Linked DNA regions of Homo sapiens: region 1 is linked to region 2. The links come from fine-mapping of genetic effects on gene expression. A gene starts in region 2. The other region holds a variant in brackets. All regions are shown on one strand. Distances are from middle to middle. Region 1 holds the start of SNORD62A (small nucleolar RNA, C/D box 62A). Region 2 holds the start of PRRC2B (proline rich coiled-coil 2B).

What was found. PIP is the estimated chance that this variant, and not a neighbour inherited with it, causes the effect. A credible set is the group of variants that fine-mapping cannot tell apart.
Region 1: its variant is the best candidate, but not a certain one, in a credible set for the expression of PRRC2B in whole blood (INTERVAL, PIP 0.77).

What each region holds. Positions count from the first base shown.
Region 1 is chr9:131,482,929-131,494,681 of GRCh38, reverse strand. It overlaps PRRC2B (proline rich coiled-coil 2B), which reads right to left. Exons shown (of 32, transcript NM_013318.4): 23 at 11,237-11,323; 24 at 9,892-9,996; 25 at 9,542-9,734; 26 at 8,500-8,597; 27 at 7,388-7,515; 28 at 6,586-6,826; 29 at 3,102-3,257; 30 at 2,422-2,513; 31 at 196-277. SNORD62A (small nucleolar RNA, C/D box 62A) reads right to left here and starts at 9,017; the gene lies at 8,932-9,017. It overlaps SNORD62B (small nucleolar RNA, C/D box 62B), which reads right to left and starts at 4,196; the gene lies at 4,111-4,196. RefSeq lists an enhancer at 4,985-5,485. The variant G/AAG (reference allele first, on the strand shown) is at 8,091.
Region 2 is chr9:131,389,890-131,400,287 of GRCh38, reverse strand. PRRC2B (proline rich coiled-coil 2B) reads right to left here and starts at 6,202. Exons shown (of 32, transcript NM_013318.4): 1 at 6,025-6,202. RefSeq lists enhancers at 1,720-1,799, 3,417-4,178, 4,941-5,702, 6,829-6,978 and silencers at 5,509-5,798, 6,029-6,138, 6,169-6,358.

The DNA.
Region 1 (11,753 bases), 94 kb before region 2:
CGCCCGTCAAGAGGAGAAATGCCTTCGCCAGGAGGGACGCGGGCGGCCCAGCTCCCGGTTCTGTGCTCTAACCGCTAGGGCATGGCTGTCTTTAGACAGGGGGCGCTCAGATAGGTTGGACAGTCCCTTCTCTTTTGGCGCTTGGAGACGGGCCTAAGTGTCCAGGGCTGAAGGGTCTGGAAAGCCATCTTCTACCTGTTGCACGTAGTGTCCCTGCACAGAGCCCATGTTAACTGCTGATCCAGAGGGCTTCCCACTGGGGCTAGCAGAGCTAGGCCTGAAAAAACCAAAGGCAGGGGTTGAGAATACACAACGTGTCACCACAGAAATGGAGTCAAAGCCTAGCACATGGAGGAGGCACAAGGAAGGAAGGGCCTGCGGCCAGAGGCGCTCACTCGGGACGGTCCGTGGATCTCTTGGATGGAAAACAACCACAGACCTAAGACAGCCCAGAACGCAGAAGGGTGAGGGGGTGGCTGTCACTGACCACCCTGGCACCTCCAGGACAGAGCTCAAGGAGACGCACCGCAAGAGAGGGAGGCTGAGGCCCTGTACAGATGGGCATGGCTGTCCTGCTGTGCAGAAAGCGACACTGGCCGTCTCAGGGTCTGGACCAACACGATGCAGTGCCCCAGACAAAAGGCCTAGAAGCCTGACGCTGAGCCAGAACTGTGCCGAGTATTGTTCTAGTCTTCACTTTTCAGAAAAGGGGATGGGGGAACCAAAATGTACAACATGCTTCTAAATGTGTTCCACTGACCACTAGTTAGTTCCCAGGGATGTTAATTAGGTGCTACGTGGAAAAAAAAAAAGTCTGCGGTCAAAAAGCCTAAGTGCCGTGTGCAGAGTTCAACAGGACTCTCAACCTAGGCCCGCTCAGCCTGTGTGGTGAGTACCCTCCCCAGCAGGCCACCCTGGGGACAGCACTCCCCCAAGGACCTGACCAGGGAACCCTTGTTTTTGCAGCGCACATCTCAGCAGCTCTATTTCCAGAACACTTTGGCAAACACTGCTTTATACAATTATAGCAATTTCCCCAACCCCCCTAAAACACCATAGAAACAAAGCTACTAGTTTAAGGCTTCCACTTTCTAAATATGCTCCAAAGAATAATCTGCTGCCATTCATTCCTACAACTACATAGACACAGGCGACTCTTGTCCCGTGAGGCTCTGTCTCTGGGTTTTGCTTTTTGAGGAAGGCTCTGTAGCCAGAGGCTGCTGGAATCTGCCTGTGGCAGCAGCGGGACAGCGTCTGCTGAGACCTGCAGCCGCCTTCCTCCTTCCAGTTCCGCTCCATGGTCGGTGCTGTCCAGCTATCTTTTTCACACAGTCCTGATGTTTTGGTCTATGTGACAGACATGGTAGGAAAACGAAACGTACTAAAAACAGAAATAAATGAAGCCAGGAGAGTGAAAATAAGAACAGAAAAGATGGAATGGGAGGAAAATCTACAAAAACCCCTTTCTCTGGAAATGAAGGTACAAGAGTGGAATGCTGTGATGGAGGACAGGCAAAGGGCGGTGGGGCAGAGGGAGGGCAGCAAGGCAGAGGGGGTGCAGCTGGAGCAACTTGCAGACCATGGGGGCCCGGCTTGCAGAGCGCTCCTCAGGCCCACAAGTACCTGTGTAGTCGTGGGGATACCTCATGGCGTCTGCAGCGATGGTGTTAACCTCACAGGGCACCATGGGTCAGGCAGGTCTGTTTCACTCATTTGTAAACACAGAGGGGTCTCAGGAATCTCCCACATGTAACAAGGGTGGACTGTACAAGCCCTCGGAGCCCAGGGCCAGAGCGTGCTGCCTTCACACACCAGCACGGGCAGAAAAGGCAGTGGACCAGAGGCTCTCGCCAACATCCGACAGAGCCACCTGAGTATCCAGCTAAGGGGACCTGAGACAGTTGCTGGAGGTGGAGACAGACACAAAGGAAGCAAAAAGAGGGTGCTGGTTTGTAGCATGGAAGGAATGGCCCCATAAGCCCAGCAATAAAAAGTCCCCTGGCAGGGGTCATAGGGCAAGTCTGAGGAAAGAGACGCTGGGAAAGGCCACGCTCCTCCCCTTGCCAGGATGCAGCCCTGTGGCCAGTGGGTCCTGTTTTTAGGATCTAATGGGAAGTCACGTCAGTCCTGATGCCTACTAAATGTCAGCCGTTCCTTTTCCTACCTTTCCAGAAAGCTCCCCAATCCAGAGCATCTTATTATAATGATTAAAACCAAAACCACTCTCCTGACTCCTCACTCCCCCAAATTTAACTGGAACACAAGTGCATCCCAGTGCTGAAACACCACAGTGACACATGGCCCATAGAGGGACCAGGTCTCTGGCGGCTCTCCCTGGGCCCAGATTCTTCTGAGTCACTGGGCCGCAGCTCTGGCAACTGCTCAGCTACACAGCACGCAGTCCCCAGGGAGTGGCTTTACCTGTAGGTCTGTGGCGATGGCACGGGGCCTCCTGAAGGGACATTCTGTTTACTGTCGGCAAAGTGGAAGCCTTTCATCTCCATCTGAGAGGGCTAGAGAGACCAAGCAGGAACAAGCTGTCATTTGAGGCCCTGGAGACAGCTGGACCACACACTTACTGAACAACCCAGGGCAGAGGTGGTGAGGGCCATGGGAATTCCCAGGGAGGCATCTTATAGAGCAGTGGTTTTTGGCACCAGGGCCCAGTTTCATGGAAGACAATTTTCCCACAGACCAGTACAGCTCTGCAGCCCGGGGACTGGGGACCCCTGTTCTAGAGAAATCTGCAAGCCCTTTCCCTCTAAGCCAGACTCAAGAGGGCTTCTTCTTAGAAGCAAGAACCATCACAATATTTTGTTCTTTTTAAAGTGAAGTGGGAGAGCCAATGAAACATGGCCGTCCATAGCAGGGCCTCCTGGGGAGCTGGGGAGGAATGCTGATTCCTGGCCCTCAGCCCTCGACATGTTCAGAGTCCCCAGGACCTGCCTCTGTGATGGCCCCACACATGGTCACCTTCCTTTCTGCCCTGGCAGTCCCACGCCACTGGCTCTTTCTACCACACAGGGGTACTTAGCTTGCTAGAAAAAGTTGGTGACACAAGGCCCCCTCCCTAGGGTCAGAGGCAGATGGGGTCCCCTTACCTCTCTGCTGGTGTTCAGGACTGGCGGCTGGGACCCGGGCGGAGGAATCCTTCGGGGGGCCCCAACGGAGAGGCTCTGCCCAGGTGGCAGCTGAATAGACTGGGGCAGGATCAGTGGCTGCTGCCCGGAGCCGTACCGAGGCAGTGGCATGGTCAGCTGCTGGGCGACAATGACAGTCAGGAGGGGGAATGATGCTATGGAGAAACCCCAAACGCACCAAAGAGCGACCGCACATGCACTTCAGATTCATACACTTCAGAAGAACTAAAGCAAAGCCTGCATAAAGCAGGACATGCTCTAATTTCTACTGCAGCACAGGAGAGATCGCCCAGGATTTCACACCTTCGATGGCAGAGGCACGTCTTCTTGCTGGAATAGAGTAGGTGGTGAGAAAACGGGCAAGACTAAGCTGGCTGCAGGCATGGGAACTAACAGCGTTAAGTGTGTCTCATCCACATCTCTGCTAAGGGCTGCGTCTATCTTCAGCCCTTTCTGCCTTTGTCCAGCAAGTGCTTACTGAAAGCATACAAGGTGCCAAGGAAGCGGCAGGGCCCTGTCCAACATGGGCCTGCACACTGCCAGGATAGTGTGTCACACACTGGACACAGCTGCAGGACACTCGGGATGCAGAGCGGCATAGGATCTGTGGGTGCACACCAGATTTATGGGTGCACACGGGGCGGGGTGGGCAAGGAGAGGACGAGTGAGGAAAGTCAGAAGTAATGGCGAAGCCAAGTCCCAAAAGATGAAAGCTGCATCGGACGTATATCTCTGCATTCCTTTGTACAGCACACACGTTCAAGACTCTTACTGTTTTGCATCAAGTGGTGGTAAAAACAAGACTGGGCTGGATTCCAGACTGTGGGGGTCCTTTGAAGCATGCTGACAGGAGAACAGGGTAGCTGCAGGGCCTAACTAACTAGAACAAGATATGCGAGGTGGGGATGTGGGCCCAGAGACTGTAAGGACAGGGGAACAGGATGGGGTAGGGGGGCTGGGCCACTTTTGGTCTCTCAGTCACTGTCCTCTTCATCTCCCTGCTATTGAGTCCACAGTGGAGGGTCAGAAGGATCTATTGGAATTACATCACTGAGACTTGTGGTGGCCAGAGCCGCAAAACACCATGCTCCTCCTTGGAGCACCAAAATGGTGCAGGATGAAAATGATGGGAAGATGCTGCCATTTATAGAGTGCTGACTTGGGGTATGATCTGACTTGCAGGGAGGCCAGGTAGGAGTCCCTACAGGAGCTGGACAGCATGCAGGGGTGTGGAGGGGATGAGACACAGCTGGATTCTGAATCCTTTTAAAGCCAGAGCTGACAGGCCTGCTGAAGGGTAAGGGGGTGAGGTGAGGGGGAGCAGGGAGCCAAGGAGGATGTGGACTGGACAAGCAGAAGGACCGGGAGGAAAATCGAGTTTTGAATATGATGAGTCTTGAGATGCCATAAGACACCATAGCAGACATGCTGGAAAGTCCATTGGATTTGAGATTCAATTCCAGGGACAGATCTGAGCTAAAGATGTCCATTTGGGAGTGAGGAGAAGATGAAGGAATTTAGAGCCATGACTCTTGAAACACACCCAAAGCAGGGCCCACGGGCATGCTGACCATTACAGACTGGGAAGGAGAGGGGACAGCAAAGGAGACTGAGGAGGAGGCCTGAGGCAGCAGGAAAGCCAGGAGCGACGGCCTGGAAACTGGGTGAAGAAAGTGGTTCGAGGGGTGTGGGGGGCGGGATTACGGGGTCAGCACTGCAGCTCGTCTGTGTACTGACGGGAAGGGATATCTGATGCATGAAAGAGAGGGAGATGTGCTGGGGCAGGGCCCCCCAGGGGCACAGGCAGCACCTAGGCAGGGATGTGGCCACAGGGGCTTGGAGACTGTCACTGCTCCTGTTTCCTGGGTGACACAGAAAGGGAGGTCATGGGTGGGAGGCAGCGAGGGGCAAGATGCAAGTCTGAAAAGCTGCTAGGAGGGTGGGGGTTGACTGGGAGCCACAGCTTGGATGAAATGCAAAGGCCATGTGGCTCGGCAGATCTGCTGATGGGGAGGAAGAAGCCAGGCCAAGGGGGAGGATGACAAAAACATGGGTGGCAGAGACTGGGTGTGGTGGCTAACACCTGTAATCCCAGCACTTTGGGAGGCCAAGGTGGGTGGCTCACTGAGGTCAGCAGTTCGAGATCAGCCTGACATGGTGAAACCCCCATCTCTACTAAAAATACAAAAATTAGCCGGTGGGTGGTGGGCGCCTGTAATCCCAGCTACTCGGGAGGCTGAGGCACGATAATTGCTTGAACCCAGGAGACAGAGAGGTTGCAGTGAGCCGAGATTGCGCCACTGCACTCCAGCCTGGGCAACAGAGCGAAACTCCATCTCAAAAAAAAAAAAAAAAAAGAATTTTGGAGTTGGGTCACTAGAGGGAGTGAATTGAAAAAGCCAGAGGTGACAACTGAGAGGGACACTGAGAGTTGAGATTATGCGAGAGCCACAGCTACTGGGAGCAGCCAAGCCTAGACAGGAGTGCACAGAGCAGGGGCCCATGTGAACAAGGGCACCAGTGGCGAGGAGGGCACAAACTGCATGGACAGGGTCCATGGCACAGAGACCCGGGGTCATCTCTGCAGACATCAAAACCACTAGGAACTGGAACAGGAGAGTGGAGACAGACTGCAAGCCAGACCAGACAAGGAGGGTGACCTTCAAAGGTGCCAAATACTGCCCACAGGTTGACGGAGAGGAAGATTTCTCAGCAGACACTGGATGTGGTGATGGCACCATAGCAGAGTGAAGGGCTTGTCAGGCACAGTCTATGGTGTGGGCTTCAAAGCTGGCGTTTCAGGGAGGAAGGAAGAAGAGGAGTCTAGAAGCATCAACAACTACACAAAGAGGACTCTTAACCCATTCCACACCCTACTGCACAAGGGCAGGGAGAAAGGAAGGAGCCCCCGTCTGGGGGCTGCAGGAGCAGGCAGTGCTTAGGGGACAGCCAGGTCTCAAGAATAAAGAGATGGATGAGGGGCCAGGGGTGGTGGCTCACGCCTGTCATCCCAGCCCTTTGGGAGGCCAAGGCGGGCAGATCACTTTGAGGTCAGGGGTTCGAGACCAGCCTGGCCAACATGGTGAAACCCCATCTCTACTAATACAAAAATTAGCCAGGCACAGTGGCACACACTTGTAGTCCCAGCTACTCAGGAGGCTGAGGCAGGAGCATCGCCTGAATGTGGGAGACAGAGGTTGTAGTGAGCCGAGATCATGCCACTGCACTCCAGCCTAGGCAACAGAGCGAGACTCTGTCCAAAAAAAAAAAAAGGTGATGGGGCTACTCAGAAGAGGCTGATTTCCTGCACGCTGAGGAATGGGCACGGTGGCTACCAACCAACAGCACGATAGGCCAGCACACACTGAGAGGCGGGTGAAAAGAAAAGGCAAGGTCGTGAAGGAAAGAAGCCTAGGGCTTTGGGTAGAGTGACTGAATTCCTGACCTGTGGGAGCTGGGAGTCCAACATCTGGGAGGCACCCAGGCCAGCAGCCTGGCTGAGCTGGCCCTCGTAGACCAGGGCTTGGTTCCCGCTCATGGGCTGGTAGGGTGAGCCAGACTGCGGCTTCACCATCTCCAAGGGCTGCATGCCTGGGAACGCCGAGTATGGAGGCTTCAAGGCTGTGCCCCCAGAGAGGATCATGGTGCTGGGCGGTGACAGGCTGGGGTGCATGTACACCTGAGATCTGCAAAAGCCAGACAGATGGTCGGGATCAGGTGGATGAGTCCAGCTGCGGATCTGGTCCCACCCTTCAGAGATCCCCGGAGAGCTTGCTAAACCACAGATCCCCGGCCCCACCCCCAGAGCGCGACTCAGAGGGTCCAGGATGGGGCCTGAGAACAAGCTCCTAGATGGCGCTGATGCTGCTGGATTAAACAAGTGAAGACATCCAGGCTGTACGAGGCACAGGACATCAGCCACAATGACTGGCAGCCACACTGACGGAGAAGCCCGCGGTGGGGAGGAGACAGGGAGTCAAGGGGAGAGGAGGAGGAAGGAGCAAGGAAAGGAGGCAAGATGACATGGAAAAGCAAAACACGGCCCACCACATATCAGCTCGCCCCAGGCCTCTCCTAGAGCACAGTTAACAACGGACTGAAGAGTGATTCAGAGCAAACTCCCACCCCTCCCCGCCCCACTGGCCCCAAAGCAGACAAGCACCAAACAGCTGCAGGACGAAGGCTGCACACAGGGCCAAGGCCCTGGCTGTGAGCTGCCAGCTCCGCAAGCTGGTACATGAGCTCACCTGAAGGGCTGCAAGGAGCTGAAGATCTCCTGGGACTGGGACACAGGAAGCCCACCCCTCAGTCCAAGCTGAGCTTGTGCCTGCAGAGATGTGTGAAGGGAGATCGGGATCTGCTGGGCAGCGGCGGCCTGTGAACGGGAAAACGGGGTCGGGGAGGTAACCGCAAGGCCCATCCAGGTGGTTCTTCCCCTCCCACCTCCCCTGCCCCTCTCCACATGGCTGCTGGAACACTGCCCAAAATTCAAATGCCAGCATGTCATTCCTGGGCTTCCCTTGCTATTGGGATAAAGCCTATAATGAAAAACTGGTAGCAACCCCAAACCACAGCATATCCCTACCCTGGAATTCTACACAGCAACAAAAATGGATCCTAGCACATACGTCAACAGAGGTGAGTTCCAAAAACATAACGCTGAATTTAACAATGCACAAAAAGAAAGATACATGCAGTCTGACCCAGTTATGCAAGAACCAAAATCTTGGTAACCAAACAATACAGCAGTTAAGAACATGTTTTTAAAAAGAGGTCAGCAGAGGCCACATCCTCCATCAGCAAGCCTGCACTTGGAGCAGATTCTGCCTGGAAGTCCACTGTCGTGGCTGTGGAGGCACATGGGTCTGAGGGGCGGCTAGACCATCCCAAAGGCCCAGCACCAGCATTAGAGGGGAGACTTCCAAAAATCACCCCTTGGCAGCACAGAAA[G/AAG]TATGCCAGTCCTGCATAAATAACCAACGCCTGCTCATTTCTAAGACTACCTCTTTCTAATGCATCCATGCCTGGGAGTTTAGGCCTTTCTTCTCTTCATCAGAAGGATACCTGATCACCAAAGAAAATTCCATTTTAGCTAATTCCCCGGCTAGGACACAGGAGGGAGAACTTTGAGAAAGGAAAACTAAGCAGAGTCTGGAGCAGCCAACTCCACTCCTCTTCCCTGTCTCGATTATTCGCTTAACAAATGCCTCCTGGCTGCCGTGGCGGGCCAGGTGCTGGTCACCACATGTGAGGGGGATGGAAAACCAGACAGACAATGAGAAATAGATGAGCAAGCCAATTCCGCCCTGCACTGGCTCCTCCCCACCACCCCCAGCCAGGCCACCTGGCTAGCTGCTGTCACCTGTTGGTAACTCTGCTGCTGAGGTATCGTTTGAGGAACCAGCCGGGGCTGACTTGCAAACACATGGCCATCCAGGTACAGGGGCGGGAGGTGGCTGCCTGGAAACAGAGCGGCAAAAGGGACGTAGAAGAGGATCAAGCCTCACTACTTCTCAATGTCCCTGAGGGAAACAGTCTACAGGTCTGCTCTACCCAGGGGACTCAGTGGGGACGAGGGCGTGTGTACAGAGGCTGCTAGGTTCCCTGTGTGCCGGAAGCACACGCCTGCTCACAACACGCCTGGCACGCACCTCAGGGAACGTAGGGAGGGTGCAGCGTCAGACCTAGGAGGAGGGAGGAGGCAGGTGGGCTCTGGCCTACCCTTCCCACCTCCCACTCACCAACTACCCCAGACACTCGAAGGGGCATTCTACTTTAACCAGGGCTGCCTTGGTCTCTCAGTCACTGTCCTCTTCATCTCCCTGCTATTGAGTCCACAGTGGAGGGTCAGAAGGATCTATTGGAATTACATCACTGAGACTGGCAGCTGGGCCCTCAAAACCCCCACGCTTCCCCTTGGGGACACTGGCACACGATAAGGATGGCAGCAATCAGGACAAAAGTAGCTGCCAGTGACTGAGGGCTCTGTTGATACAAAGCCCTTTCCAGGTAAGACCTGGCCTCACGGGTGTGGCCACCCCACGGAGTTTCATGTAAGAGAGGAGAGGACACTGTGGCTCGGCAAGAGCTGCTCACCAGCCGAGGCGACACGGCTCCAGCACATGACCCAGGTCTGACTCAAAGTCAAGCCTTTGCTCGCTCCTGTCACCAGTAGGCAGGAGTGCCTCGCTGTTATCCCCCAGTTCTGTTTCCCAGCGTGGGGAAGCAGGACGTGCACATTACCTGCAGCACATGGGAGCTACGACCACTGGGCCTAAAAACAAGTTGCTACTTCTACATGCTACTTAAGACAAGGCCAGGAGGTGACATTCGGGGCTGTTAATCCGTTTTTCTTGATAATAAATGGAGAAGGACCCCAAGGCCTTGCTCAGGGGATGAGATACCTGGCATAGAAGCAGAAGGTGCTACAGAGGCCACAGGCATGGGTGGCATGGACACTCCACCGAAGGAGCTGTAGTTGACCCCGCTGGAGGCACCCACAGAGGATGGAGGCTGGATGCCTGAGCCAGCGCCGCCTGGAGAGCTCTGCTCCGGCAAACTGGGGGAGTTTTCCCAAGCCTTGCGCGCAGACTCCATCTTCAGAAGCAAGGGGAGGGGGAGGGATGAAAATTACTATCACGCTGGCAGTGGACAGAGCCAATCTAAGCTTTAGGGGTTCGGGGACTCCTCCCTTCTGCCTCTTTGTAAGCTAAGGTACTGGGTGGGCCCTCACCCAGCTCAGGGCTGGTGTTACCTTCAGAGTAAGGTCGGCGGTGGGGAAGGACATTGGGGAGAGACCGATGGCCCTCTGGATGTGATGGTCCCGCCGCAGGATGGGGATACTCTGTGTTAACCCTGCCTGGAGAGGAGGAAAAGGAAACCATGGAACACAAACAGGTGCAGAGATGGCTTTGCCCAAACCCATCCATGGCTCTCCTGAACACACTCAAGGCTCGTCCAAATGTATCTATGACTTGCCCAAACCCATCCATGGCTTTTCCCAAAAGCACCTACAGCTCCGTGTCTATGAATTGTCCAAATGCATCTTCAGTATTGGCCACATGTACCCAAGACCACCCAGATGAAACTGATGGCAGCCAGGACCATGACTGATCTCCTGGAGATGGCTGCCTCCATCAGTTTCCTCCACACAAGTCTGCAGAGAGCCACCCCCATATCCACACTCCATAGTGCCCTCCAGACAGGGAGAGCCATGTCCCGGCAGTATAAATATGGACTGGCAGCCCGCACACAAACATCTGGTTCAGAAGGCACCTGCCACCTGGCCTGGAGATGCCCTGGGCCAGACAGGGAAGGCTGTGCCCCTCAGCAAACTGAAAAAGAGGGCTCTGGTAACAGAGGCTGGAAATGCAACAGTGCCCCCGCTTCCTGCAGATCCCCGGTGTCCATCTGCATGTGACAGAGACCGCAGACTCTCGAGTAAAGAACCTCGTAGAGCCCAGCACTTCCAAAACATTGTTTTCATTCAACACCTATGAATATTGTACAGCACTCACATTCCTTGGAATCCTCTGGGAAACGCTGCCCAAATGATACTCGTTCATTCAGCATATGCACTAGCACCCACCCCTGCAGGTGGTGAGGACAGAGCAGTGAACCAGATGTCACTGCGACAGCCTCAGCTGCAGCCCCGAGTGGCCACAACAGATGCAACTGCCAGCTCCTGAGCCCATGGTAGAGCGCCAGCAGGTCTTCTGGATCACAACAGTTAGATTGCAGGCGGCAGGGACCCTTGGATGGTGAGATGGGGCCTCCTGAGGAGGGCTCTCCTACTCAATCTGTGCCCCTTACCCCTGGCCACAGAAAAGGCAGCCTGAGTCTGGGCTCGCACCTGGCACAGAGGAGACAATGGAACCAAAGAGAGCCAAATAAACCAGCCCTTAGGAACTGTATGATCCCCACTGGAAGGTCACAAAACCTGGGCAGGAACATTTAAGCACCTTTTAAGGACATGGAGCTGCTAGCAACTGAGTCACGTGCCAGCCCAGGTCAGCCTGAAATACATGTGCTGTCTCCTTCACCCAGGGCCTGCCAGCCCCAAGCAGTGAGTGGAGCCAAAAGTGGAAGTGTGGACTTACATTACTGGCCAAGGCATCCTGAAGTTTAACAACTGGACTCCCAGTAGGACCAGAGGCAGAACCAGGTGGCAAGCTGAAATCGGAGTCCTGAAAAAATAAAAAAGGCCACACAGCCCACTGAGATCCTCCTGGCCCTACATTCCCCAGAGGCATACATTAACGTGATGCAGTTTCCCCGACTCAAAAACTCCACTGAGCAGCATTCACTGGAGCCACATATGAGCGAGATGGCCAGATTTTCCCCACGGCACAGGAGACAGGACGCCAGCCTCACTTCTTTCTCCCTGTCCCTTGGGTGGCCTGACAGAAACAGGGAAGATCACTGGCCTGTCTGGTGTCAGTGAAGCAATCTTTAAAGCAACTCAACAGAGCACTGGCCATGTGCAGGACTCCACACCAACACTCTAGCCGCTGGAAGACTGCTTGGCTCCCATCCTTCTATTCCTTCTAGGAGACAATCCCATCTGAGCCCCCAGCCTCTCCAAGTACCAAAATAAAAAGTAAAAAAAGCAAGCAA
Region 2 (10,398 bases):
TGGCGAAACCCCGTCTCCACAAAAAAATACAAAACTTAGTCAGGCATGGTGGCGCATGCCTATAGGATCCCAGCTACTTGGGAGGCTAAGGCAGAAGGATCATTTGAGCCCAGGATGCAGAGGTTACGGTGAGCTGAGATCACATCACTGCACTCCAGACTGGGCGACAAAGTGAGACCCTGCCTCAAAAAAGAAAAAACTAAGAAAGAGACTGCCTTGGGCTCAAGGCTGGAGAGGGAGGTGACAAAGACTGAAGGAGACAACCGATCCTGTCCAGAAGAGAAGAACAAACCTGCAATCCTCTGACCCCAGAAATTCCACTTATGGGAGATAATCAGCCACGTGGACCAAGACTTAACATGCCGAGATGCTCCCTACAGTTTCTCTTATAGGAGGGAAAAGAGGGCAACAATAATCTAAATGTCTACGAATACAGGAGTCAATAAATTATGGCATATCCGTATAATAGCAATTATATAATTATAAAAATAACGTAGAGGAATACACTATAACATTAAAAGGGGAAAAGCAAGCTATCAACTGTGTATTCAATGTATATATACTATTGCTCTAATTTAGAAAACACAGACATTATCAGAGGAAAGAAACACACCAGCAACTTTACTGCAGTTAGCTCTGGATGGTGAGGTCACAAGTGATTTATATATTTATTTTGGCATTTATTCTTTTCAGTATTTTCCTTTTTTTTCAGATGGAGTCTCGCTCTGTGGCCCAGGCTAGAGTGCAGTGTCGTGATCTCGGCTCACTGCAAACTCCGCCTCCCGGGTTCATGCCATTCTCCTGCCTCAGCCTCCTGAGTATCTGGGACTACAGGCGCCCGCCACCACGCCCGGCTAATTTTTTGTATTTTTAGTAGACACGGGGTTTCATCGTGTTAGCCAGGATGGTCTCGATCTCCTGACCTCGTGATCCGCCCACCTCAGCCTCCCAAAATGCTGGGATTATAGGTGTGAGCCACCGTGCCCAGACTTTTTTTTTTTTTTTTTTTTTGAGACAGAATTTCACTCTGTCTCCCAGGCTGGAATGCAGTGGCACAATCTCGGCTCACTGCAACCTCCACCTCCCAGGTTTAAGTGATTCTCCAGCCTCACCCCTCCTGAGTAGCTGGGACTACAGGCACTCGCCACGGCATCCAGCTAATTTTTGTATTTTTAGCAGAGACGGGGTTTCACCATGTTGGCCAGGCTGGTCTTGAATTCCTGACCTCAGGTGATCCGCCCACCTCGGCCTGCCAAAGTGCTTGGATTACAGGCGTGAGCCACCGTGCCCGACCTACTTTTTATTCTTTTGAGACAGGGTCTCACTCTGTCGCCCAGGCTAGAGTGCAGTGGCATGATCACGGCTCACTGCAACCTCAACCTCCCAAGCTCAAGTGATCCTCCTGCTTCAGCCTCCCAAGTAGTTAGAACTACAGGCATGCGCCACTATACCCTACTAATTTTTTCTTTTAAGAGGCATTTTTTTATTTTCATCACATTGCCCAGGCTGGTCTTAACCTGGCCTCAAGCAATCCACCTGCCTTGGCCTCCCCAAGTACTGGGATTACAGGCATGAGCCACCTTGCCCTACCACAAGAAAAATGTATTTAAAGGGCCTTGTACAATGCCTGGCAAATGATAGGTGCTCAAGGAGTATCTATTGCCTGACAAGTCAATTAAAAATGCAATAAATACTGCTGCTGCAGCCCCACAGAGAAAAAGACTGATGGTTATCTTGGAAAGGAGGAAGACGGTCCAGACGGAAGCCACACAACTGGCTGCAGAGGTAAGAACGGAAGGAAGTCCTGTACAAGATGTGAAAGACCGCCAGCAACTTGAGATAGGCTTTGTTCTGCCAGCTACTCCTGCTGCACGCAATGCTTCACAAATCAGTGCTGCTGCCAGCACCTCGGAGGTGCACTTCAGCTCGGACGAAGGATGCTTCTCAGGTCACACAGAAAACCAACAAGTACAGCTGAGAACAAAGCTCAACCACAACTTCTGGCTCAAGACACTAAGACAAACCTACCTCCCAGCACAAAAGAGATTTCCCACGTGCCACCCAGAGGTATAAACAGTAATATCGCCAATGGCAAGGCCCAGGTCTGCCAGCTCCCAGGTGAGGAGGTCCAGTCTGAATGGCACCTTTTAAACCTAAAGCTAATGACAAACAATTCTATTTCACCAGAAACAAAGCTCACCATATCCCATGTCGCTCCCATCTCCAACACCACAGCCAGTGCCTGTATTTCTTTGTCCCAATGACAGACCCAAGTTTCCTGAGGCTGTACAAGTCCCAGAAATAATCTTAAAAAGAGATCAAGTTATGATCTGAAAAGAAGACAGTCTAGTTAGCCCTGCCTCCTTACATGAAATTTATTTAAAACCAAAATTACAAGATTTGGAGCACAAAGCCCATTGTCTGCTGGAAATGTTGTTTTTTGGGGAGAAATCCATTGTTTTAAAATCTAGTATAGATAGGCTCTATTTAGTACCTGTCCGCCCATGACAAGATATGTACATTTCACGGTAGGGAAGCCTCATTATTGAATTCAGAAATACATGAATTGACCCACCTGGCCTATTCTGGTTTGAAATAGAAACCAACACAGAAATGATCAATCTTAAGGGGTAGGATAATGAGACATATAACTAGCATACAGCCACAGCCATTAGCAACATGAGTCAGTACTTTGTGCAAGGCAAAAAAAAAAAAAAAAAAAAACCCTCAAAAGTACAATAAAATAATCCTTCAGGATAAAAAAAGAGAACTGAAATTCAAAAGAGGTTAGGAGTGTTGAACAGGAAAAAAAAAATTAATAACAAAAATCCCTCAGCTAAGCACAAGGCAAAGGGACCCATGCTGGAACCAGTTCTGACCTGCCATTCCTGAAATTCCACTCTCCCGAGGTTTCCTGGCTCTTCCTTCCCCAGGCTTTCTTTTTACCTATTTGGGCCCAGTGGAGGCTGGAGACGGCCACTGTACGAGATGGGACGCCCACACAGTGGGCTTAGGGCCTAAGGCAAGGGCATGCAATCAGCATTAGGGGGCCACAGATAACCAAAATTCACAGGTATGCAGAAGCTCATGGGAGAGGCAGCGACTATCTCCTGGCCTAACTAACCAGTTAACAGTATAGAGCCAGACTGGGCCCGAGTGAAGTCAGACAAAAAGGAAGGGCCAAGAGGCAGGAAGCGAGGAAAAATCAAAGGATGACAGGACCCTGCTAAAATATCTCAGTTCCACAGCTAGGAGGTCTGGAGGGGGTGCCACATTTTACCAAAAAACCAACAAGATGGTTGCGGGAATGCCAAAATGAACCAAAACAAATTCCCCAATAAAATGCAGAACCACTGCAGAGCCATTTACCAACAAGCTAACATGTTCAGCCAAGAGGTGACCTGGGTCTCAGTCCTCACTTGTGGCCAACACTGGGTTCAGTCTGTCTCCTGCTTCTTAGCAATAGTCCTTCCACACAATCTCAAACAGCAGACACCGAGATCTGGCTGAGCTCCCTAGCTGTACTAAGCCATTCTGGTGCTTCCAGGTAGATGGGTGATAGTCACCATAGCAAAACATTAGCCGGCCATAGAATTTGGGGTGGGGAAGTCACAGTTCCATCAACCAAGAGAAGAGGAAAAAATAAGCATTAAGAGAAAGAAGACCGGGCGCGGTAGCTCAGGCCTGTAATCCCAGCACTTTGGGAGGCCAAGGCAGGCAAATCACCTGAAGTCGGATGTCTGAGACTAGCCTGGCCAACATGGTGAAACCCTGTCTCTACTAAAAACACAAAAATTGGCCAGGTGTGGTGGCACATGCCTGTAATCCCAGCTACTCCAGAGGCTGAGGCACGAGAATCGCTTGAACCCAGGAGGCGGAGGTTGCAGTGAGCTGAGATCACATCACTGCACTCCAGCCTGGGCGACAGAGTGAGACTGTCTCAAAAAAAAAAAAAAAAAAAAGAAAAGAAAAGAAAAAAGAAGGAAGGGAAGGAAGGAAAAGGAAGGGAAAGGGAGGGAGGGAGAGAGGAAGAGGGCAAGGGAGGAAGGAAGGAGAAAGGAACCAGAAAAACAGATAATCAACAAACACATACATTTCATCACCTTCCTATGGAGAGAAAACAATTCACTGTGAATCTTAAGTGAGGCTCCCAAGAGCCCTAATAGATACCCAAGGCAGGCATAATTATTCCCATTTTACAGATGCAAGATCTGAGCCTCAGAGACTTGCTTTGTAAAGGTAACCCGATGAGGACCAGAATCCAGCTGCGCAGGCTCCAAGAGACACACTTGCCCAAACAAGTAGAAACTCACTCTCAGATGATTATCTGCCAATCCCCAAGGAAAGCAGTTATCCTCAGAAGGCAGGACTCCTTGGGCGTCTGTTTGTCCTGAGCATCTCGTACTGTTCTAACCCTGCCTTAAACTGACCAACTGCCACACACTCCGGGTCTACTAAGTTCTAGAGACCTCCAAATGCTACTTTTTCCCATCCCTGCCTCCCGAGAGGCTCAGCACTGTATAAGCGCCCACTAATGTTTGGGCCTTGAATTCCTTCTGTATTGTCCATGCCTTAGGCCAGCACCTGTGGCATCCATGGGCACAGTTTGGCTCTATGGGTGGCACCACAAGGGGCTCACGTCTGTCCTAGGACTTGACAGCAGTTATACCAACAACCGTAGGAGGAACCACTAACTGTGCCAGGCCCTCTGCTAGGCCCTTCACCGCTGCCCAAACCTGCCAGGTGGAGGGTGCACGCCCCGATTTATGCAGATGAAGCCTCAGACAGCCCCAGAGTCACTAGGTTTACGGAAGAAAGAAGCAGGATCTGCACCCCAATGCCTGGGCCTCCCCAGTCCCACCTTACACCACAGCGCTGTGCATAGACATGACTAAATGGCTGCAGCGAGATTCGGAAAAACCATGCTAAGACCGCACACAATTGGTTACAAAAACCAAACTGGATGACACTGTACAAAGCCACATCAAATGCACACTAAACCTTAAAGAAAAAAAAAATCTTAGGGAAAGTTTAACAGTCCTGTAAACCAAAGGCATTTAAAGATTTCTCCCAGGAAGCCATTTAGCAAAAGACACTCCCCAGCCCCCCTTCTCCCACTTCCTTCAAGCTCACCACTGAAAACACCTCCAATTCTTGCCTAAAGGTGGGCTCCGACCTCCCACGATATTTAGAAGGAGGAAAAAAGAAAAAGGAAAAAAATCCACCTCTTAAGGCAAATCCACTCTTCAGAGGCCCACAGTTTCAACAGGGCTGAATTTCTCTCCTGGGGGTTGAGGGGAGGCAAAAGAGGAGGAAAAAAAAAAAAACCCCATCTGGCAGGCCCCGAGTGGCGACATCCTGTTTATTATTAAACATTTTTAGCATGGAGCATTCAGCATTTCGAAAATAACCCTCTGGTTCCCGCACTCACACCGAGACTGGGCGGCCGCTCGCCTCCCTCCCCCAGCCGCCAACTTTAGCGCCGCCGGGGCCCGGCCCACCCCGCGCCAGGAACGGCCCCGCGAACGCCGCTCAGCGCCCCGGACCCAAGGCCCGACCCCGCAGGATCCCGCCTCGGGCGCGCTGCTCCGTCAATTGGGCGGGGCGGGGAGCAAAGACGCCGGCCCCAGAACCCCGAGACCCGGCTGCGGGCCCGGGACCCCCGCCCCTCCGGCCTCTGCAGCCCGGCCCGGCCTCGGGGGTACGGGGGTGGCGGGCGAGCCCTGAGGGAGTCGCGCGGCCCCTGGACCCCGCCCGAGCCTGAGGCCGCGCGGCGCCGCCACAACAATGGCGAGCGCGCCCGGGCCCGCCGCCCCCAGGCCCCGCGGCCTCCCAGCCCCGCAGCCCCGCGCCCGGCGGGAAGGAGGCGGCGGCGGCCGCGCTCGCGGACAAAGGTCGGGCAGGGCCGCAGGGCCCCCGGGCCCCCGGCGGCGGCCGCGGGAGACAAAGCCCGGCCGGGCCGCGCCGCCTCCATCTTAGCGCCGCCGCCCCCACGCCCCGGCCCCGGCCCCGGCCCCGACCCACCTGGTCTGGTTCCGCGGGCGCGGCCGGGCCGGGCGATGGCAGTCGGGCGGCGGTCGGGCACGGGGGCGGCGGGATGGCGGCGGATTGCGAGGCGGCGGCGCGGGCTGCTCGCTCGCTCGCTCCCTCCCTCCTCCCGGGCTCGCTCGTCGCTGCGCGGTGGAGCCTCGGCGCCTGTCTCGCCGCTCGCTCCCTCGCGCTCGGCTCCCCGCCCCCCGCCTGCCGCCGCCCCCGCCTCCTCGTCCTCCTCCTCCCGCCGCCGCCCGCAACCTGGGCCCGCGCAGCGCCCCCTGCCGCGCCTCCCGGGAGCGGCGGCCTTGGGATCGGCCCGGGGGCCGGGCGAGGGCTGGGGCCAGGGGGGAGGGGCGGGGAGCGGCGGGAGGGGGCTGGGAGGGGGCTGGGAGTGGGGAGGGGCCCGGGGACGGCGGGAGAGGCGGGAGAGAACGGGGCAGAGCGGGGATCGGGGAGGAGACCCGGAGGAGGGGCCAGGAGCCAAGAGAAGGGGCCTGGGAAGGGCATGGGCCCGGCCTGGGCCCGGGGGAAGGGCGCCCGGAAAGAGGGGGAAGGGATGGAGGGGGCAGTGACGGGGGAGCGAGCCCGGATCTCCGCCCCCTCCCCCTTCAAAACTGCAGCGCCTCAGAACAGACTAAGCCCGGATTTTGTTAAAATATGTATACGGTATATGAACGGAAAGGAAGCAGAAATAATACTTTTTTCATTTCAAAAGCAAGGTTGTTGCACAATATGGGTACTTTGTCCCATTTTTACAAAATGAAAACTAATAAGCCCCTCCTCTTGAGTGTTGTGTGTTTGTGTGATTGCAAAACAAAAGGTCCGGGAGACTGCACTCCTGTCTTGGTTACCTCCGTGGTTTGAGGTTGGGAGAGCGGAGGAGGGTTCTTACTTTTTTAGACACCTAACCAACTATAAAAGCAATTTCAAAAAGCAAATACAAAAAAAAAATGTTAGGGCCTGGCACCCAAATCATCCCACCCTCTTCCAGTCACGGTTGCTCTAAGCACCAGCTGCGGGCCATGCCCTATGCTAAAGCACGTGGTTTGTCTCACTTAATCCTAACCCAGGGGCAGATATTATTGTTCTAATTCACAGGTGAGACAAAGGAGGCTTTGAGAGAATGTGCCCCAGGCCACACTGCTGGACCCAGAAGGAAAATTAACCCACTTCAGCCTAACTCCAGAACTGAGGCTGGTGAACAAAGCTTAGTTTTTGGGGAGTAGAATTCTGGATACTTTTATAGCCTTATTTATAATTCTCTGAATTTTCCTACATTTTATCCATGGTCATTTTCAGTGTTATCCTTTTTTTCTTTTTTCTTTTTTTTTTTTTTTGAGACAGTCTCGCTCTGTCCCCCAGGCTGGAGTGCAGTGGCACAATCCGCAATCTCTGCTCACTGCAACCTCCAACTCCTAGATTCAAGCGATTCTCCTGCCCCAGCCTCCTGAGTAGCTGGGATTACAGACATCTGCCACCATGCCCAGCTAATTTTTGTATTTTTGGTAGAGATGGGATTTCACCATGTTGGCCAAGTTGGTCTGGAACTCCTGCGCTAAAGTGATCCACCTACCTTGGCCTCCCAAAGTGTTGGGATTACAGTGCCGGCCACTCTGTTTTACATCATCAAATCTGCATTATTCCCCTGCCAATGTCTTCAATATTTCGCTATCTCTACAAAACAGGGAGGATGTAACCCTAATTTTTGTTTTCGATTTTGTTCCTTGACCATCTTCAGGAAGGCCATAGAATTGGCCCAGTGCTCAAAACCCAGCAACTAATAAAAATGATAGAAGGCAAATAAACAAATAAAAAATAAATTAAATAAATAAACTGAGCCTCAGGTTCTTCATCTGTAAGGCTGGCGCAGTGGCTAACACCTGTAATCCCACCACTTTGGTAGGTCGAGGCAGGTGGATCATGCGGTCAGGAGTTCAAGACCAGCCTGACCAATATGGTGAAACCCCATCTCTACTAAAAATACAAAAATTAGCCAGGCATGGTGGCAGTCGCCTGTAATCCCAGCTACTTGGGAGGCTGAGGCAGAAGAATTGCTCAAACCCGGGTGGCGGAGGTTGCACTGAGCCGAGATCATGCCACTGCACTCCAGCCTGGGTGACAGAGTGAGACTCCATCTCAAAAAAAAAAAAAGAAAGAAAATAAACAAGCAAAAAAGAAATAAACTATCTGAAGCCTCAGATTCTTTATTTGTAAGGCCAAGCGTGGTGGCTCACCCCTGTAATCCCACCACTTTGGGAGGCCGAGGCAGGCAGATCACCTGAGGTCAGGAGTTTGAGACCAGTCTGGCCAACATGGTGAAACCCCGTCTCTACTAAAAATACAAAAATTAGCCGGGCATGGTGGTGGGGTCCTGTAATCCCAGCTACTCGGGAGGCTGAGGCACAAGAATCACTTGAACCCAGGAGGTGGAGGTTGCAGTGAGCCAAGAGCACGCCACTTCACTCCAGCCTGGGCAACAGAGAGAGACTCTGTCTCAAAACAAAATGATAGGAGGAGGCTGAACAGTAACAGGGTGGTTTACTGAGCACTTACTATGTGACAGCCACTGTGCTAAACACTCCCTATAGAGTCACTCAGGTAATCCTCACGACATACCCATAAAACAGACACTAGTGTGCCCATCCAACAGAGAAGAAAAGTAGACTTTGTGGAGGCAATACAATGCCCCCCACCAAAGATGTCCAAGTCCTGATCCCTGAAATCTGTGAAAATGGTACCTTCTCTGGCAAAAGGGATTCTGTAGATGGGATGAAGTTAAGGATCTTGAGATGCAGAGATGAATCCTGGATTATTTGGTTGGGCAGGTGGAATCACAAGGGTCCTCACAAGAGGAAGGAAGGAGGGTCGGAGTCGGAGAAGATGTGGTTGATGAAGCGGAGTTCATCATATTGACTGACAAAGGAATGACGCAGGACCTCACGCCCAGAAATGCAGGCTGCCTCTAGAAGCTACAAAGGACAAGGAATGGATTCTCCCCTAAAGCCTCCAGAAGAAAATGAGCCCTGCCAACCACCGTGACCTCCAGAACTTTAAGATAACAAAGTTACATAAGCCACTAAATGTGTGGTAATGTAGCAATAGAAAACTAGTACAACCTTGGAGACTTGCTGAAGGCAACACAGCGAGGGAAGGGTTAAAAGGCAAGCTAGGGCCAGACACAGTGGCTCAAGCCTGTAATCCCAGGACTTTGGGAGGCTGAGGTGGGCAGATCACTTGGTCAGGCGTTCGAGACCAGCCTGACCAACATGGTGAAACCCTGTCTCTACTAAAAATACAAAAATTAGCCAGGCCTGGTGGTATGTGCCTGTAATCCCAGCTACTCAAGAAGCTGAGGCAGGAGAACTGCTTGAACCTGGGAGGTGGAGGTTGCAGTGAGCCGAGATTGCACCATTGCACTATAGCCTGGGCGACAGAGCGAGACTCTGTATCAAAAAAAAAAAAAAAAAAAAAAAGCTAGGGCACAGTGGCTCACGCCTGTAATCCCAGCACTTTGGGAGGCCGAGGCAGGTGGGTCACGAGGTCAAGAGATCGAGACCATCCTGGCTAACATGGTGAAACCCCATCTCTACTAAAAATACAAAAAATTAGCCAGGCGTGGTGGCGGGCGCCTATAGTCCCAGCTACTCGGGAGGCTGAGGCAGGACAATGGCATGAACCTGGGAGGCAGAGCTTGCACTGAGCTGAGATCACACCACTGCACTCCAGCCTGGGCGACAGAGCAAGACTCTGTCTCAAAAAAAAAAAAAAAAAAAAAAAAGGCAAGCTAGGAGTCTTGGGAGAGAAGAGACCTGGCTTCAAATCCAGCTCAGCCATCTCCTACCTCCCTGACCATCCTCATGGAGAGAATGGCATGCAGTCATCCATCCCTGCAAAGTGCTTAGCCCAGAGGAGAGCCCTGGGAATCAAAGTTCGTCCGTTCATTCACTGGGCACCTGCACTCTGGTGCTCACTGTGCCAGGCTCTGGGGCCATGCTGTTGAACTGGGCAGAGAAGGGCCACTACAGTCAATAAAACAAACACAGGCCAGACGCAGTGGCTCACGCCTGTAATCCCAGCACTTTGGGAAGCCAAGGCGGGAGGACCACGAGGTCAGGAGATCAAGACCATCCTGGCCAACACGGTGAAACCCTGTCTCTACCAAAAATACAAAAACTAGCCAGGCGTGGTGGCGGGCACCTGTAATCGCTCGGGAGGCTGAGGCAGGAGAATCGCTTGAACCCAAGAGTTGGAGGTTGCAGTGAGCCAAGATCGCCACTGCACTCCAGCTTGGCGACAAAACAGGACTCCATCTCAAAAAAAAAAAAAACAAAAAAAAAAACAACCATGTTCCGAGGTTTTAGTTCT